Regions from separate parts of the Homo sapiens genome. Here region 1 is linked to region 2. Evidence: fine-mapped expression QTL. A gene starts in region 2. The other region holds a variant in brackets. All regions are shown on one strand. Distances are between the middles of the regions.

Region 1 (8,347 bases), 30 kb before region 2:
GTGGTCATTAATTATGTACAATCATTTGTGACATTTAAAACTGTTAATTTCCTTTGTGATTTAGGCTGTGGGGATTTTATTTTTCAAGGAAACAGTTTCTCAAAACCCATACTGTAAATGATTTTAAAAATACCTCAATGAATAGTAACTATTTCTTCTTCTTATTATTATTAATCTATTTGAGTACCTAGGCCAGGAACTATGTATACATCAACCCTAGTTGACAAATTTGTAGTTAAGTCATTCAAAAGACAGGAACACTCAGAAAGGTAAAGTGATATTCCCCAACTAGAAAATGGTTGAGGGAAGGTTTATTTCCAAATCTGCCTAATTCCCAAATCATTGTTCTTTCCACCAGCTAATGCTGCCTCCTTAGAGAGAACCATATTGAGATGCTGCCATATTATAGATGCCTCTGTGTGTGTGTGTGTGTGTGTGTGTGTGTATATGTGTGTGTGTGTATGTGTGCGTGCGCTCAGAGGCTTTCACACAAATTTTTATATCCTAAATAAGTCTCTAACCAGCTTTATAATTTGGCAAAAACTGAAGTGCAAATTAGAATTAGATTATTTGTTTTATCTTTTCTGTTCTCGGCCTGCACTACCTTCATCCTATTCAAGAAAAGAGACTTTGTTGGGTGGCATGAAATTGGTTGCCAACGACTCTTAGGTGTCTTTTTGTTTTTATTTGCTTCCAGGGACTGATATTTCAATGGCTGCATAGTACCTGACCTAAAGGGGATACTCAATAAATGTCCTTGAAAGACTGAATTGTATTAATCTGTGTTTATATCTGATTGTTCCACACATAGCCCTTGTTTTCCCTCGTCTTGAAAATACCCAAATACACATTGCAATTTTATGTATTAAATAAAATGTATTCTCAGATGCACTTACATATGGACAATGTTTTAAAACTCACTTATATTTGCATTTGAAAAGCTTGTATCAGACCATTATATAATCTAACAATTATTAGGGCTCTTAGAGATACTATGGTTGAACCCTTTCATCTTACTGAAAGATAAAATTGAATCTTTGAGAAAGTAGGACATCTTTGTTTTAAAATTAAATAAGATTATAAATTCACCTAGGAAATTTAGAGATGTGTTTCTTTCAATAATGGTAGTGTTTCCTTATGTTGGTGACCGCTCCTTCCCTTGCTGGCTTACCTTTTGTGGCTGGGTAGGAGGCAGTGTTGCATGGAGTGTTGGGGTCAGAATGACCTGAGTTTGGGATATAACTCTGACATGCTTGACATGTGGCTTTGAGCAAATTACACAATTTTCTCTACCCAGAATTTCATTTTTTTAAATAAATTAAGCATTATAATAACTATCTCCAGAGATTGTTTTAAAGATTAAATGAGATACTGTATGGTAAGAACTTAGCATAATCCTCTTATAGTAAATGTTCAATAAATCTCAGGTTTTAGCACTGTTGTGACATAACCACTGCTTATAGTCTTTGAGTTTGAAGATGTCTATTTAACCTCTCTAAAATACATTGAAATGAAAAATGTTAATCATTCCTGCTCTGCCTACTGTGGCACTCCTACTGTGATTCCTTACCCTAACACCTCCTTTACTGGCTTTTCTCCTGCTCTGAATTTCTTTCTCCACTCTCATCATCTTGTTAAATTTTACCTTAAATTAACTATGTGCTCCCAAACCTTTGACTCAGGCTCTGTCTGTAGGAGAGTTCAGCAAAGACAGCCCTTTATATGAATTCACTTTCAGAGCTAAGTAAATTAAAACCAAATTTAAATGGATTGTTATGATAAAGAAATTTGTTTGATTCACACAATTCAAAGTCCCAGAGAAAATATTTATTCCTGCCCTTTTACTAAAGTGCCAATATTACAAAGATTTGATTTCTCTCCAACACCTTGCTTAGACTTCTAATATACCGGCTTTATCCTATGGTTGCTATTCCTCATGGTCCCAAGATGTGTTCCAGAAGGTTCCACAGTAAGATGCATTGCCATTTATGGGTGATGTGAACGACGTGATGTCTTCATTCCAGGGTGCTTAGAAAATTTCCTGAGATTCACCCTGACTGCATCAGCATATGTTCCATGTCCATGCCTGTACCAATCACTGTGACCAGGGAAATTAAACATGTGGATTGGCTTAGATTCAGTTATGGGTTTCAGCCTAGAGTGGGTGAAGGAAGCAGCTTCTTTGAACCTATAGAGATTCCCAAGCAGAAGTTGAAGCTGCTGGGAAGGGTTAACACCTGGGAAGGTGGTGAGCAGGTAATAAAAAATGTCGGCTGGGTGTGGTGGCTCACGCCTGTAATCCCAGCACTTTGGCAGGCCAAGGCAGATGCATCACTTGAGGTCAGGTGTTCAAGACCAGCCTGGCCAACATGGTGAAACCCAGTCTCTACTAAAAATACAAAAATTAGCCAGGCATGGTGGTGCATGCCTGTAATCTCAGCTACTCGGGAGGCTGAGGCAGGAGAATGAGTTGAACCTGGTAGGTGGAGGTTGCAGTGAGCCGAGATAGCACCATGGCACTCCAGCCTAGGCGACAAGAGCGAAACTCCATCTCAAAAAAAAAAAAAAAGTCTACTACTTGACTTCACATGATTGCAGTGAAACAAAAAGGAAATGATATTTGTGAATATTCTCTATAGTATAGCTATAAGGTGATATACAAATATCTGGTTATTGTCATCTGATTTTCCTTGGCAGGAGCATCTCAGGAGGTCTATCCGTTTGTCTCTAACCCATACCAAGGACTCTATGCAAAATAGTCCCAAGACCAACTTCACTTCTCCTTGGTGCTCAGTGAGAATGGTTGCTGCCTTTTGAGCCATGGCACACCAGCAGATGTGCATGGGCAGAAAAGCGCTGATAAATTTCTATATAGACAGAAAGAGCAATGCATGTGTTCCTCTGGGCAACATTTGATATTCACTGAAACAGCTGTTATCTCTCAGTCATTGCACATAAGGTTAAAGTGAATAGGATATTGTTAGTATAGACTCAAGCAGTTTTTTTTTTTTTTTGTAGCAATAGGACCACACCACACATGGGCCATTCTGCCATCTATGAGACTGTTCAATTTTGTTCCTCACAAGAGGAAAGAAATAACTTGAATCCACAGAAAACGTTATAGACTACCCTAAATATAGCATGCATTCTGCTTTCCATATTCCAAAGCTCTGAAACAAATTCAGGAAGTAACTTTGACTTCTTGTCATCAACTATGATTTATTTAAGAATAGCATTCCAAAACCTGAGTCCCAGAACCAACTAAATTAAAAAGATGAAACACATTTTAAAATATGTGACGGTGTTTAGATCAAAAGGATCCCAAATGCTGAGGTAATTGTCTTAGTAAATAATACGATGGGCACTTCAAATATGAACAAGTGATGGTCAGAGCGCAGATAGAATTTTTAGATGACATTTAACAAAATGCAGTGAAGATGGCCAATGTAAATGTTTTTCTTTTTTTCTTAATAAAAGAACATAGGGGCCATATGCTGAGGCACAAACAGTTGGAAAATGCAGTAATCCAGGAAAAAGAAGCAGATCAGCATTAATTCTAGCCTTGCTTTGTAGCGATAAATGTGTTTTTTAAAATGACTAATTGAATACATGACAAGAAAAGACATTCCTGGAAAATAACTAGCAGTTGAGAACATATCGCTACCTTGCAGAAACCGACTCACAGTAACTTATACTGAAAGGTGAAGTCAAACAAACAGAGTTAGAATTAATAAACCACAGCAATAACTCAGGGCATTGTGAAATGACTGAAAAAAATAGTCTTTACTCTGCAAACTTTTGGCACAAAGCTGCTTCTTTAAACCTGCTTGTTTTTGCGGGAAATCACACGTGATCAATGATTCTATGAGTAAGAAGTCATGAATATTTCAGGCTGTAGTAGTCGATTAAGTACACAGGCAGGAAAGGTGAAGAGGGAAATAGCTTGAATTGGTTACTGGCAATGTCTACGACTTGATGGTATATTTACAAAAGCCCCCAAAGCATCACCTGGTTTTATGAGTTGTATCCTATCATCTGATGCCACAGATAGGGTGTAGTGGCGTGACCAAATCTGGGCCAATGGTAAGGGAGAAATATTGCAGGGAAAGATTCAAAATGTCACTATACAAAAGACATGTAATATGCAAGATTGGGATAGAAGGCAACTACAGCAACTCAGAGGCAAGAAACTGTATCAGTTCATTCATTAGCACTCCAGAGGACACATTCATACAAAGAAGAACAAGGAAGTTAATTTCAACACAAGACAAAGGGAAACTTTCTACCACTGAAAACAGTTCAAAAGTAGAAGGTCTAATCAGGTCCTTTCCAATGAATGTGGTCAGAGACCTCTACCCCCAGACATGTTGAGCATCCTCCTCAGGGCTGAACCAAATAACTAGGTGAGGATGCAAAAGCTCTGGGGGAAATCTTTTTTTAAATTTTTGTTGCCAATATTCTTTTTATTTCTTTGGGACTTTGGAAGTTAGGAAAGAATTTCTGGAGCATTTGACAAACATTTTATACGGAGATCTGCAAACAAGGAAATTTCACTGAAGTTCTCAGAATTTATGAATTGCAGGACAAAGTTATTGGCTTTAATTTCTTTGAAAATAGATATTTTTTCTAAAATGAGAAGTGTGTATATTAGGACTGAAATTGATGC[G/A]GATGCAAAATAGCATTTAAGAATAGCATTCCTAAACCTGAAAGCCTAATATGACCAAAAGAGAAAGTTAAAACTTAAGTTGTCAATATAGAAATATTATGAGATTAAATGAGAATACACATATTAAAGGTATGTCATATAAACACTGGTTCCCTATCTTTTCATGGAAAACTCAGAAGACATATTTTTATATGTGCATGGTAGAAGTGTACAAATTCTAAAGACCTCTAACTTGGTAGTAATAGTCTCCAGTTCAGAAAATCATCCACCCCTAGATTTCAATCTTTGGTTATTTAGTCAGGGGTTCTGCAGTGTCTGCAAGTTCTTGGAATGGGAGTGTTCAGGTTTTCTCTGCCTTGAATTGTGGTTGAGATTAAAAAACGCCTTGGCACATCCTGTTTGAAGTACAGTAGATGAATCAAGTTCTGGCCATGTCCCAGCTATGGATGCTAAAATGGTATCATCTCCCTCAGCAGCTAAGGTTCCCAGCCATAAAGGCCAGGCGTCTTTAAGTGAAAGCTTCAGTGGGTTAATTGACACTTAGTGAGGTGTTTTTTTTTTTTTTTTTTTTTTTTTTTTGACAGAATGGCACAATCTCTATTATCTCATGGGAACAAGATGGTAGAGTTCTGGCTATGGTGTTCTGTTGGACAACAAGGCATAGCCCACTCAGCATGGGGAAGTGTAAACTGTGGTACATTTGAGGTTCCCTGGTAGAAAACAAGAACTTCCCAAACATGAAGTGATGCATGGAGAGAAACGTGGAGATAGCATGCATGTTCTCTCCAGGTATGAAGAGAAATCTTGTTCATAGAAGACTTGAGCTAGAAGGGGATAAACTGACCTTGCCAGGAAAACAGTCTTGAAAGCTGAGGTTACAGCGATGTGGCAAAGTACAGGTCTTTTTTTTTTTTTTTTTTTTTTTTGTGCCTGCTACCTTTGTTACTGATGGGAGTCCTTCAGAGTGGTTCTTTAAAGGAATAAGATATTTCAGTATCTTGCTTAGGCACCAGATCCATACTTTTAGATGTCTTCGCCATTACACAGCCACTTCTTAGGTGCAAACCAGCCTTGACATTGCAGTGACCTTATGGATTTGGCACCAAGCCTGCTACAGGCCAAGAACCACTCCCTACTCTACCTGAACCACTTAATCCCCCAAACATGGGACATCTTATACACATCTCTCCAGACAGTGAGGACTAGCCCCTTGCAATTACTCTCCCAAGGAAGATGATAAGTGCATTCAAGGTGATTTGTCAGTCTCAGTGTGTACTCTGAAATGTTTGGCTCTATTCACTGAATAAATAAAGATGCCACATACAATCTAGTGATACATCTTTCTATTAGGCATAATGTCGGAAAAGATATACAATAGTGTTAATATTAGTGTTAATATTTAAAGCAAACACTCCCTCAGTGTTCCTTTTCAAATCTTCTAAAGTTCATAGGTGAAATTTTTAAGGTAAACTGTAAGATAACTTTGTAAAAAATGTCATCAGGATTTCAATTATGTTTGGTACATATATATTATTTGCAGAATTTTGAAAATATTAGATATATTTATTTCTTCCCACCAGATGAATAATCTATTCCTCCATTTATTTGAACTTTTTACACATTTTATGATGAATTTCTATAGTTTCCTGATTTTGGTTCTAGACTTTGTTTTATGACCTAGAGTTTTGGAATATAAAAAGCTAAGAGCTTTATATATATTATATTCTCACTATTATATCTTCATTGTTTTAAAGTTTTAAAGTTAATTTTCTTTTATTTCTAGGGACAATCATATCATTTTGAAGTAATGTCTGTGTCCTTGTTCTCATCTGTTATAATCTCAGTTGACTTTTTGTATTATTCCTGATCTTAGGAGAAAGCATCCAATCTTTCACCCTCACATATGAGATTAACTGTGAGTTTTGATAGATTTCCTTTATCAGGTTGAGCAAGTTCTCTTTTTTCCCTATCTTGTTGAGTGTTTTATTTTTTTCCAACCATGAAATGAGATTGTATTTCTTTTCAAATACCTTTATGTATCTAGTGAGATGATTGCATAGTGTTTTCCTTTTATTATATTAATATGGTGTTTTATATTTATTGACATTTGGATATTAAACCAGCTTTACAACCCTGGGATAAAGCCCACTTGGTTATAGAGTGTAATCATTTTATGTGTTAATTGGATTTGGTTTGCCAATATTTTTTCAATATTTTTTGTGTCTATGTGTCTATATTCATAACAAGTATTGGCCTGTAGATTTCTTTTCTTATGATGTCTTTGGTTTTAATATCAAGGTAATACTGACCTCATAGACAATTTCTTCCTTTTTAAAAACAGTTTGTGAAGATCTAGTATTAGCTGTTCTTCAAATGTTTGGTAGAAATTACCAAGAAGGCCCTCTGAATCTTAAGCTCTTCTTTGTGAAAAGTATTGAAATTATTAATTTAATCTCCTTAATTTTTATATTTACTTTTTATTTGTGTAAAGCATCAGATATACTTTATTTGTTAATTTCTTTCAAATTATGTGTGTTTGGTACTGATTAAGAGAATGCCAGTACCAAACACACAGAAATAAAGGAATAATAAGGAAAGAGTATTGCAACTGTATGCCAATCAGAGCAGTTCCAAACATATTTCAGCCTTTAGATTTAGAAATATGAACCTTTTATCATTTTTCTTAATCATTCTAAATTTTTGTCAATTAAGTAATATTTTAAAATAACCAGTGTTTGTTTTGTTGATTTTCTCTATGTTTATTTCATTTGTTCACACACTTATTTTAATTATTCCCTGTCTTGTGCTTGCTTTGTGTTTAGCTTGTTCTTCCTTTCCCAATTTCTTATGGCAATAGATTATCAATTTGATTTCTTCTTTTTTTTCAATATAGATGTTTAAAGATATAAATGTCTCTGTCAGGACTATTTTAGTTTCATCTTATAAGTTTAAGTTTTTGTATGTTGTATTTTTGTTTCCATTATCTCAGAATTTTCTAGTTTACCTTGTGATTTCTTCCTTGATTCTGGTTATTTAGGAGTGTGTCATTTAATTTCCATATATTTGTGAATTTCCCAAATTTATTTTTGTTATTGATTTCTAATTTAATATCATTGTGGTCAGGAAACATGGTTTATATGATTTTAATGTGTTTAAATTTACTGAAGCTTGATTTATAGTCTAGCATATTGTCTATTTTGAAAATGTTACATAGTACCAGAGAAGAATGTGTATTCTTCTGCTGAGTGAAGTGCTGTATAGATATTTGTTAGATTTAGTTGGTTCAGTGTTGTTCATGTCATCTATATCCTTGTTATTCTCTCTAGTTCTATCCATTATTGAAGTGAATATTAAAATACCTAACTATTGTTGAATTGTCCCTTCCTCCCTTCAACTCTTATAGACTTTATGAGTTTTGGGGCTGTGTTGTTACGTGTATATTTATTTATAATTGTTATTCCTTCTGGATTTATTGATGCTGTTACCATTATAAAATATCTTTCTATTGATATTTTTGTTTCAAAATCTATTTTGCCTGGTATTAGTATAGGTCAGTTTTTTTATAATTGCTGTGCGCCTGCTATATTTCTCTTCATCCTCTTACAGTCAACCTGTTTCTATATTTGAATCTAAAGATACAAAGTATCTTTCCATCCTGAGAACAGAATATTGTCAGAAATT
Region 2 (8,347 bases):
TGTTTAAGAATATGAACCCAGTCTAGAGTTCTGTTGATTATGGATGCAGATTTTATTTTCAGTGTGTGTAGATGTTTGTAGCCATCTTATATCCACATATAATTGTTTATTTGCATGTTCTGAGGGTACCACATAATTTTTGAACATGCCATGGAAAGTTATTTTTTTCTCCCAGTCCAGCTGTTAGCTTGCTTAGTGTCCTTCTCAGACATCCTACACACTCTTTGGTTGCTGTTGGAGACAGTTTGATACCACAGTCTGTGATCATGGACCCTTCTGCCCAGGGAATGCATGACACATTTGCTGTTGGAGAACTGTAGTTCACAAGCCCAAGACTAACAGGTCTCCCTAAGCTTGCATGGTTCCACAAGAAAGCAGGAAGTAAAGCGTGGTTGAGTAGAACCTGTTGGTTTGCAGATCTCATTCCTAGTTTAGAGTAAATCAGTCACAGAAGATGCTGAAGGCAGCTGGTTTCTCAATCTCATCTGAAAATTGTAGTCCTATCATCATATATTTTCTACAGTAAGTAGAAATATATATGATTGAATCTATTTCCATTAGTTTTCTCATTTAATAAATTAAGTCAACATTCTCTCTTTCACCCTGAGGCTTTCTCTCATCAACAAATACATAATTGAGCTTTACTAGAAGCTGTGAGCTTCTTCAGTGGCCTGCATTTTGCCTTGGATCCCAGTACTGGATATCCTACTAGAAATGTTGGCTGTTCTTTCCTAAAGGCATGTTGAAGCCTTCAGTCCAGGAACGTATGACCAAGGAGCAAGCCAAGAGCAAGGGCAGAGTCAACTGAATGGCACAATCAGCAAATTTGGGGTAAGTCAACTTTTCCTAGACCCTAGCCTTGGCACTAGCTCCACTGCGTTCATTTCATAGATGCTGTTCTCATGGCCTTAATATTTTCTCCAGGCCCTTGTAAAACAATATGCATGGGATCATCAAAATCTGTGATGATTTCCATCAGGAGCCACAAACATCCTATCCCATGTTATTATCATTAAGATTATGTAGAAGTCATTGAAATTGTGGTTAGAAACAAATGTGGTATCCATTTGTAGATGTAATTGTTAATGGGATTTAGGCTTGAGAAAATACTTTACAAAGGTTGAAGCAAATCCTTTATTATCTGGATTATTTTTCTAGAAATCATCTCTGCTTCTGCCTACAGAGCTCAGAGACAGGCTAGACATGGATCGAAATTCCCATGTCTATAAATGTAGGGCTGAACTACAGGTAAACAACAGGTTAACTAATATTGACTTTAGTAAAACAAGTGTCATCTCAATTGCTTTCTCATATCTGTGAACTCTAAATGATGATATAGGCTACAACCACCAAAATCAGAAGAATCATTTCTGACAACAGCACTCCTGAAGAAATAGGATAGCCATAGTAATAACAAAGCAAGTGGTTTGTATTATACCTCAGGGCAGAGTTTTGTTTGCTTTTCAAGGCAATGGGATTAATAAAGAACTAGAAGGATTTTATTCCGAGTCTAGTTAGAGCACATCTCACATTCTTGATCTGTTTGAATATATTACGGCAACTGGGAAAATAATATAGTAATCTAAATCATAGGTACTCTGGATTTGTGTGGCAGGCAGAAATAAGACATAGGTTCAGAAGAAATGTATGCAAAATAGTTACAGGTTCTCTGTGAATGCCAGAAGATACATAAGCCAGATAAGATTTCTAGAATCATTGAAAGAACTGTTCCTTCTAAAGTATCCATCTTAGAGCTAATGATATCTCTTTTCCTCCTTATCATCCTGGTAAGGAAATGAAAGTCGGCTATGTAGGAACTTGTTTGGTGGGCTTCTATCAAGCAGCTGGTTTATTTATTGACATTAGGATTAGGTATATGGTATACTAGTGCCTGAGTTTTTATGAGGTTATTTCCAATATACTCTGCTTGATATCATCTTTGCTGGACAAGGAAGTAGAACTGACAGTTTGAATATCAGCTTCTTTCCTGGTTTTACATTTGAAAGGTTTGTTTGCAGAAATATTCATATATATGTATTATATATATGTTATGTATATAATATGAATGACTTTGGTGTACAATTAAAGATATTTTTAAATTATAAGTTATAAATTATAATTATAAATTAATATAATTATAAATTATAATAAACTATTCCTGTAATTATTATAATAACTATACATTATAATAAACTGTTGCATTCTCATGCAACTCTATTCCCTGTTAAGCAACTAGGGTTATCCTTTTGATCCTAGATATGAATCTGCCCTGGCAAACCAGAGGCTTCTATACCACCTGCAAGGGTCTCATCATTAGCCATATATTATCTCAGGGTCCTCTACAGTGTCTCTTTTTATATTCACTTCCATGGAGGAAATGATGTCAATCACCAAATCAAGAGAATTCTTTGGGTTCTTTATTATAAGGGGACTAATCTCATTCGTGAGGGCTACACCCACGTGACCTAATCACGTCCCAAAGCCTCCACCTCCTAATACCATCATCTTCGGGGTTAGGATTTCAACATATGAATTTTGTGGAGACACACATATTCAGACAATAGCACTTATATTTTGGTGATCCCTCAGAAAATTAAAAGTAGAATTACTGTATGATCTAGCAATTCCATGCCTGCATGTATACCCCCCAAAATGGAAAGCAGGATCCTAAAGAGATATTTGTATACCCTTTATCATAACATAATTATTCACAATAGCAAAAAGGTGAAAGCACCTCAGCTGTCTATAAGCAGGTGAATGGACAAACAAAATGTGGCGTATACATACCAGGAAATTTTACTTAATCTTATAAAGGAAGGAAATTGTGACATATGCTACATCCTGGATGGATTTTGAGCAAATTATCTATGTGAAATAAACCTGTCACAAAAACACAAATACTGTGTTGTTTTATTTATATGAGATACGTAGAGTAGTCACATTTATTAAAAACAAAAGTAGTAGGGTGGTTGCCAGGAATCCAGGAAAGGGAAGAATAGGAATTGTTGTTTAATGGGCATAGAGTTTCAGTTTCTCAAGATGAAAAGAGTTCTGGAGATTGATTGTACAACAATGTGAATACACTTAACACTACTCAACTGTGCACTTAAACAGAGCTAAGATGATAAATTTTACATGTGTTATGCCACAATTAAAAATAAAATAAAATATAATACTCACACATTAATGCCGCATTTGATATTTTATATCTTCTTGGTAATCTTTAAAACAATTTCATTCATTTTCAGGGCACCAGTCCAGAGCAAGAGGTTCATCAAGGGTTCATTTCTGTTTTGTTAGGTTTTGTTTTGTTTTCTCTAGGATTCAAGTCTCCCCCTGTTCTATGTGTGGAACACTTTCTCTTGGCTGCCTGGCAACTCTTCAACAAGGCCCCATACACTCTGACATCAAGGAGGGTATTATCCCAGAGCTTTCTCCCAAGATACTCAAACCTGGTGGTTTGCAGGCATGAGGTGGCCACCACCAAACTTTAGTCAGTCAATAGCCAGCAGGCTCTGCATGGGCATCAGCCCTTGGACACAAAAGTGACTAAAAGGAGCTGCTAAATGCCCCAGTAGGGCTTCTGAGAAGAAAGGGCAGCAGAGTACCAGGAGGAGAAGCCTAAAGAACAAAATGCATTTGCTGATCCTGGGGGAGCTTGCAGTTTCTATGCCCTTGATACTGTTACCAAGCTGAGCAAGAGGGAGAGGAAGCAGTGCTCAGCGAGTAAGTCCTTGACCAGGCCTTCTGTAGCCTGAGATTTGCCACAAGCTGTTTCAGCCCCAGCTGTTGCAAGCAGGATGAGCAAGCCAGAATATTCACCTGGCCATCCACTCCAGTAGTGACAAGGTGTGTCGAACAGTGTCTGCAGCTTGGGTCATTTCAGGTACACGAGGATAGAAGACACCTCAGAGACTAGCCCAAACTTCTCACTTTACATATGAAGAAAACTGAGGTCCACATTCATAGATTTACAGTTCAGTGCTTACTTTACTTTGTTTGTTTGAAATAAGTTACATGTCAAAAAAAAGTGGGGGTGATGTGGAGAGTATTAAAATAGTACTGAGCTTCAGAGGAAGAATTTCTAGTATCTTACTCTCTCCTATTCCCAAGCCTTCCCCTTTCTTCCTAATAGAAGGGAAAATTCGTCACTTCCATGGTCTTCTTTTTCTTGCTTTCGAACTGGAGAAAGCCCACCGTATTTTACCTTTCTTCTCTCCCTTTAGAAAAAGAGTATGGTAAGTAAAGTACAATATTCTTCACTCACCAAAGATAAAACCCAGGCATCTTTCTCCTCCTCTCTCCTCTCCAGAATCTACCCCAGCAGCTAGGCTGGAGAAGCTGTCTAGGTGATCTCCCTTAACATTATCATAAGCAAAGATTCTTTCTTGGTTTGGGTCTCTCTGTGATTATTACCTTTGTTCTAGTCCTTCCTTCACATCATAAGATAAGGTCCAAGTTTTAGGTTTGAATCGTCCCAGACAAATGCAGAATGTCTAGTCTCTCCTGTCTATCGCAATTCAACATTTAAATTGAGCTACCTTAAAAATAAGTTTACTAGGTTGGGCATGGTGCCACATGCCTGTAATCCCAGCATTTTGGGAGGGTACACTGGGAAGATCACTTGAAGCCAGGAGTTTGAGATCAGCCTAGGCAACAAATGAGACTCCGTCTCTTAAAAAAAAAAAAAAAAAAAAAAAAAAGAAAAAAGAAAAAAAGAAAATTAGCCAGGCATGCTGACACATGCCTACAAGCCCAGCTACTTGGGAGCTGAGGAGAGAACATTGCTTGAGCCCAGGAGTTCAAGGCTGCACTGAGCTGTGATCTTCCCACTGTATTCCAGCCCATGTAATAGAACGAGACCGTCTCAAAAAAAATAAAAAAATAAAAACAAGGAAGTTTACTAAATGTTCTAGTCCAGTTTATAAAATACTTTTCATTTTATATTTGATACCTAAGTCACTGCTTAAAAAATATTTTTTGGCCAGGCACAGTGGTTCACTCCTATAATCTGAGCACTTTGGGAGGTTGAGGCAAATGGATTTCTTGAGCCAAGGTGTTCAAGAATCCCATCTCTCCAAATAAAAGTATCTAATTCAAGTATCTATTGGTGTGTGTGTGTGTGTGTGTGTGTGTGTGTGTGTGAGAAGGTGTGCAGGGAAAATGCACCTATCTTCATAGATTAATGTTACTTAGCATCCCTGGGAAAATAGTAACTCTGACTACAGAGAAAAAAATCTCCAATTTAAAAAAGTTTTTTATATAACTTCGAAGGTCAATGGTTACCTTATTTAATTTCAGGTGATAACCAGAACTTCTTGAAATTTTAAAGGACGGCTAAGTGGTTAACCAGGGAAAAACTGTGATTAAATTATTACTGTAAAGAGCAAGATCAAGACAAGTGAATATATTTCAAGGAAATGACTGCATTAAGGAATCAATATATAGTTACAAGAGCTTTCCAGTGAGTGAGTCTACCATCCACAGAGTAAAACATTTTCTACAACTATTATATCAATATGTGGCAAATAATATCTTAAGATTTATTCACAAGTTGTTCCCACTTGAATATGTAGCCTCTTCTTTGAAATTGTGCTTTAAAGTGATCATTTGTAAGCATAAGAGTAACTGCAATTCTTGTGTCTTTCATTTCAAAATGTTAGAAGTCATTGGTGAATACATGGGTAAAGATGAAAGAAATTAATGATTGCTAGATATATACTTCAGGTTTTAATTAACTTATTTATGTCAGTGATTTATAAATAGTTGTTCTGTGGAACACAAAGTCTGAAAAATGTCTTAACAGAAAAATTAAATGTTCTGTTAAAAGCAATGAATTTTGGAAACACTGCATTACTGTAATGAGGAATATTAAAGAGATTTTGACTTGGAGATAGCCAAGGGATTTGGATTTGGGGATATAATATAACCAAGTGGGGTTCATCCCAGGTAAGATAATTTAATATTTAAAATCTATTAGTAATAATGATTTTCTCAATGGAAAAAAGAAAATTTAATATAATTAAACACATATAATAAATACTCTCAACATACTTGAAGCAGAAGAAAACCTTCTCAGTCTGGTGAAGAGTTTCAACACAAAGGCATCAGATAGCATAATTCTTCATGGTTAAATAAGTATTGAATAGTGTCCTTTGATTTTAGGAAGTAGACAAGGATATGTATGATCTCATTTTTGTATCTGGCTTCTTTCATTTAGCATAATGCTTTTGAGATTCACCCACATTGTTTCAAATATTAATAGTTCACTGCCTTTGTTGCTGAGTACTAGTTAATTGTGTGGATATAGCATAATTAGATTGTACATTCACCAGTTGAATGCTTATATTGTTTTATTTATGTTGTTGAATGAACCATATAAATGTTTCCAGGTTTGACTATTATTAATGCAGCTGCTATATACATTTGCATTCAGTCTTTGTATGCACATGTTTTGTTTCTTTTGGGTGGGGTGGAATTTCTGGGCAATAGAGTGTCTGTTTAACTTGACAAGAAATTGACAAACTCTCTTTCAAAATGACTGTATTATTTTTATTCTTTCTAAAATAAACATTTAATCCTATACATTTTCCACTAAACACTGCTCCTGCAGCATCTCACAAATTTTGATACGTTGTGTTTTCATTTTATTTCTCTTGAAAATATTTTCCAATTTCTCTTAGGATCTTCTCTTTGACCCATGGACTATTTGAAAATGTATTGTTTAATTTTCAAGAGTTTGGAAATTTACCTATCTTTCTATTATTTATGTATAGTTTAATTCAGTTATGGTCAGTGTGTTAGTCTGTTTAGTGTGTCTATAACAGAATACCTGAGACTGTGTAGTTTATTTTCTATATGCATTTATTTAGCACAGGATTCTACAGGCTGGGAAGCTGAAGAGCCTAGGGCCACATGTTGGGTCAAAAACTGGCATGGGAAAAGAGATCACATGGCAAGGGAGGAAGAGACAGTGTAGGAAGTCCATCTTGCTTTTATAACAGTTCACTCTCTAGGAACTAGTCCAGTCCTGGGAGAGCAAAATTTCACTCCCATAGGAGGGTATAAATCTACTCATGAAGGATCACCTCTGAGACTCAAACACCTCCCACTAGGCCCCAACTCCCAACAACACCACACTGAGAATCAAGTTTCAGCATGAGTTTGGGTGGGAAAACCACAGCATTCAGGGAACACATTTTGTATGATATCAATTCTTTTATGTGGTTAAGATTTGTTTTATGAATCAGGATATCCTTATTTGGTGAGTGTTGGATATACACTTGAAAATAATGAATATTTTCCTGCTTGGGGTGGATAATTATGTAAATATCAATTAGAAGCCATTGATTATTGGTGGTATTCAGTCCCTTTGTATCTTTTCCAATATTCTGTCCGCTAGTTTATCTATGACTGATAAATAAATCCACTGATATAATTGTGGATTTTTCTACTTCTCCATTCAGTTTTTTCAGTTTTTCCTTCATGTTCTGAAGCTCTTTTGTTATATTCATGTACATGTAGGGTTGTTATGGCTTCTTGGTGGATTTACCCTTTTATTGTTATGTAATGTCTCTATTCTGGTAATTTTCTTTGCTCTGAAATCTACTTTGTCTGATACTAATATAGCTATTCTAGCTTTCTTTTGATTAGCATTTGTATGGGAAATGTTTTTCCAACCCTTTAACTTTAATCTAACTCTATCATTGCATTTGGCATGAGTATATCATAGATAGCACTTGGCTGAATCCATTTTTAAAAATCTTTGTTGTCCATCTCACTTTTTTAGTTAGTATATTTAGATCATTTAGAGCCCGTTGGTTTACAAACAAATTTATGGGTTTGTATTCCTGAGCTCTCCCTAAAATCTCCCAGGTATTTTCCAGTTCCCTAGTGCTTTCTTTTTCTGTCCTCTGGCCAGAAAGCTGGAGCATTGGTTACTCTATGCTGCCATATACTACCCATGACCGTGTCAACATTAGGGGTAGCGAAGATCATAGTAATTGAAGCTTCAGGTTTCTGGCCTGTGGGAAGACAAAGAGGAAAAAATATATAATTGGAGTTTTCTCCACTCTCTTGGGACAACAGATCCTCTGGTTAGAGTGGAAGATTTTCCTCCCTCAAAGTTTATATGCTCCTGGATGGATGTACAATCATTTTGGAGGTCAATATGCAACACAATATCTAACATACTTGAAGATGGGCAGCCCTGTAATCCTGTTCCTCATCATACACCCTAAAGAAACACTTCAATGTGTATACCAGAGACAAAAATTACTTTATCATTTTATAGTAGCAAAAAATTAAAATTAAGCTAAATTATCATCAACAGAGGAGTGAACAGTTT

Alleles and levels. Alleles are on the strand shown, and positions count from the first base shown. SD is a standard deviation of normalised expression in the study named.
For the expression in testis of the gene that starts at base 3,342 in region 2, A is the high allele of the variant in region 1 and G is the other (small effect, 0.24 SD a copy in GTEx).

The links.
Region 1: its variant is fine-mapped to the expression of LINC02624 in testis (GTEx, PIP above 0.99).

What each region holds. Positions count from the first base shown.
Region 1 is chr10:106,164,866-106,173,212 of GRCh38, reverse strand. All of the region lies in intron 1 of LINC02624 (long intergenic non-protein coding RNA 2624), which reads right to left. Among named protein-coding and RNA genes, the nearest start is that of LINC02624, 29 kb to the right of the region's middle. The variant G/A (reference allele first, on the strand shown) is at 4,667.
Region 2 is chr10:106,135,160-106,143,506 of GRCh38, reverse strand. It overlaps LINC02624 (long intergenic non-protein coding RNA 2624), which reads right to left and starts at 3,342. Exons shown (of 5, transcript NR_134330.1): 1 at 3,181-3,342. LOC105378469 (a long non-coding RNA gene) reads left to right here and starts at 3,650. Exons shown (of 6, transcript XR_007062381.1): 1 at 3,650-3,726.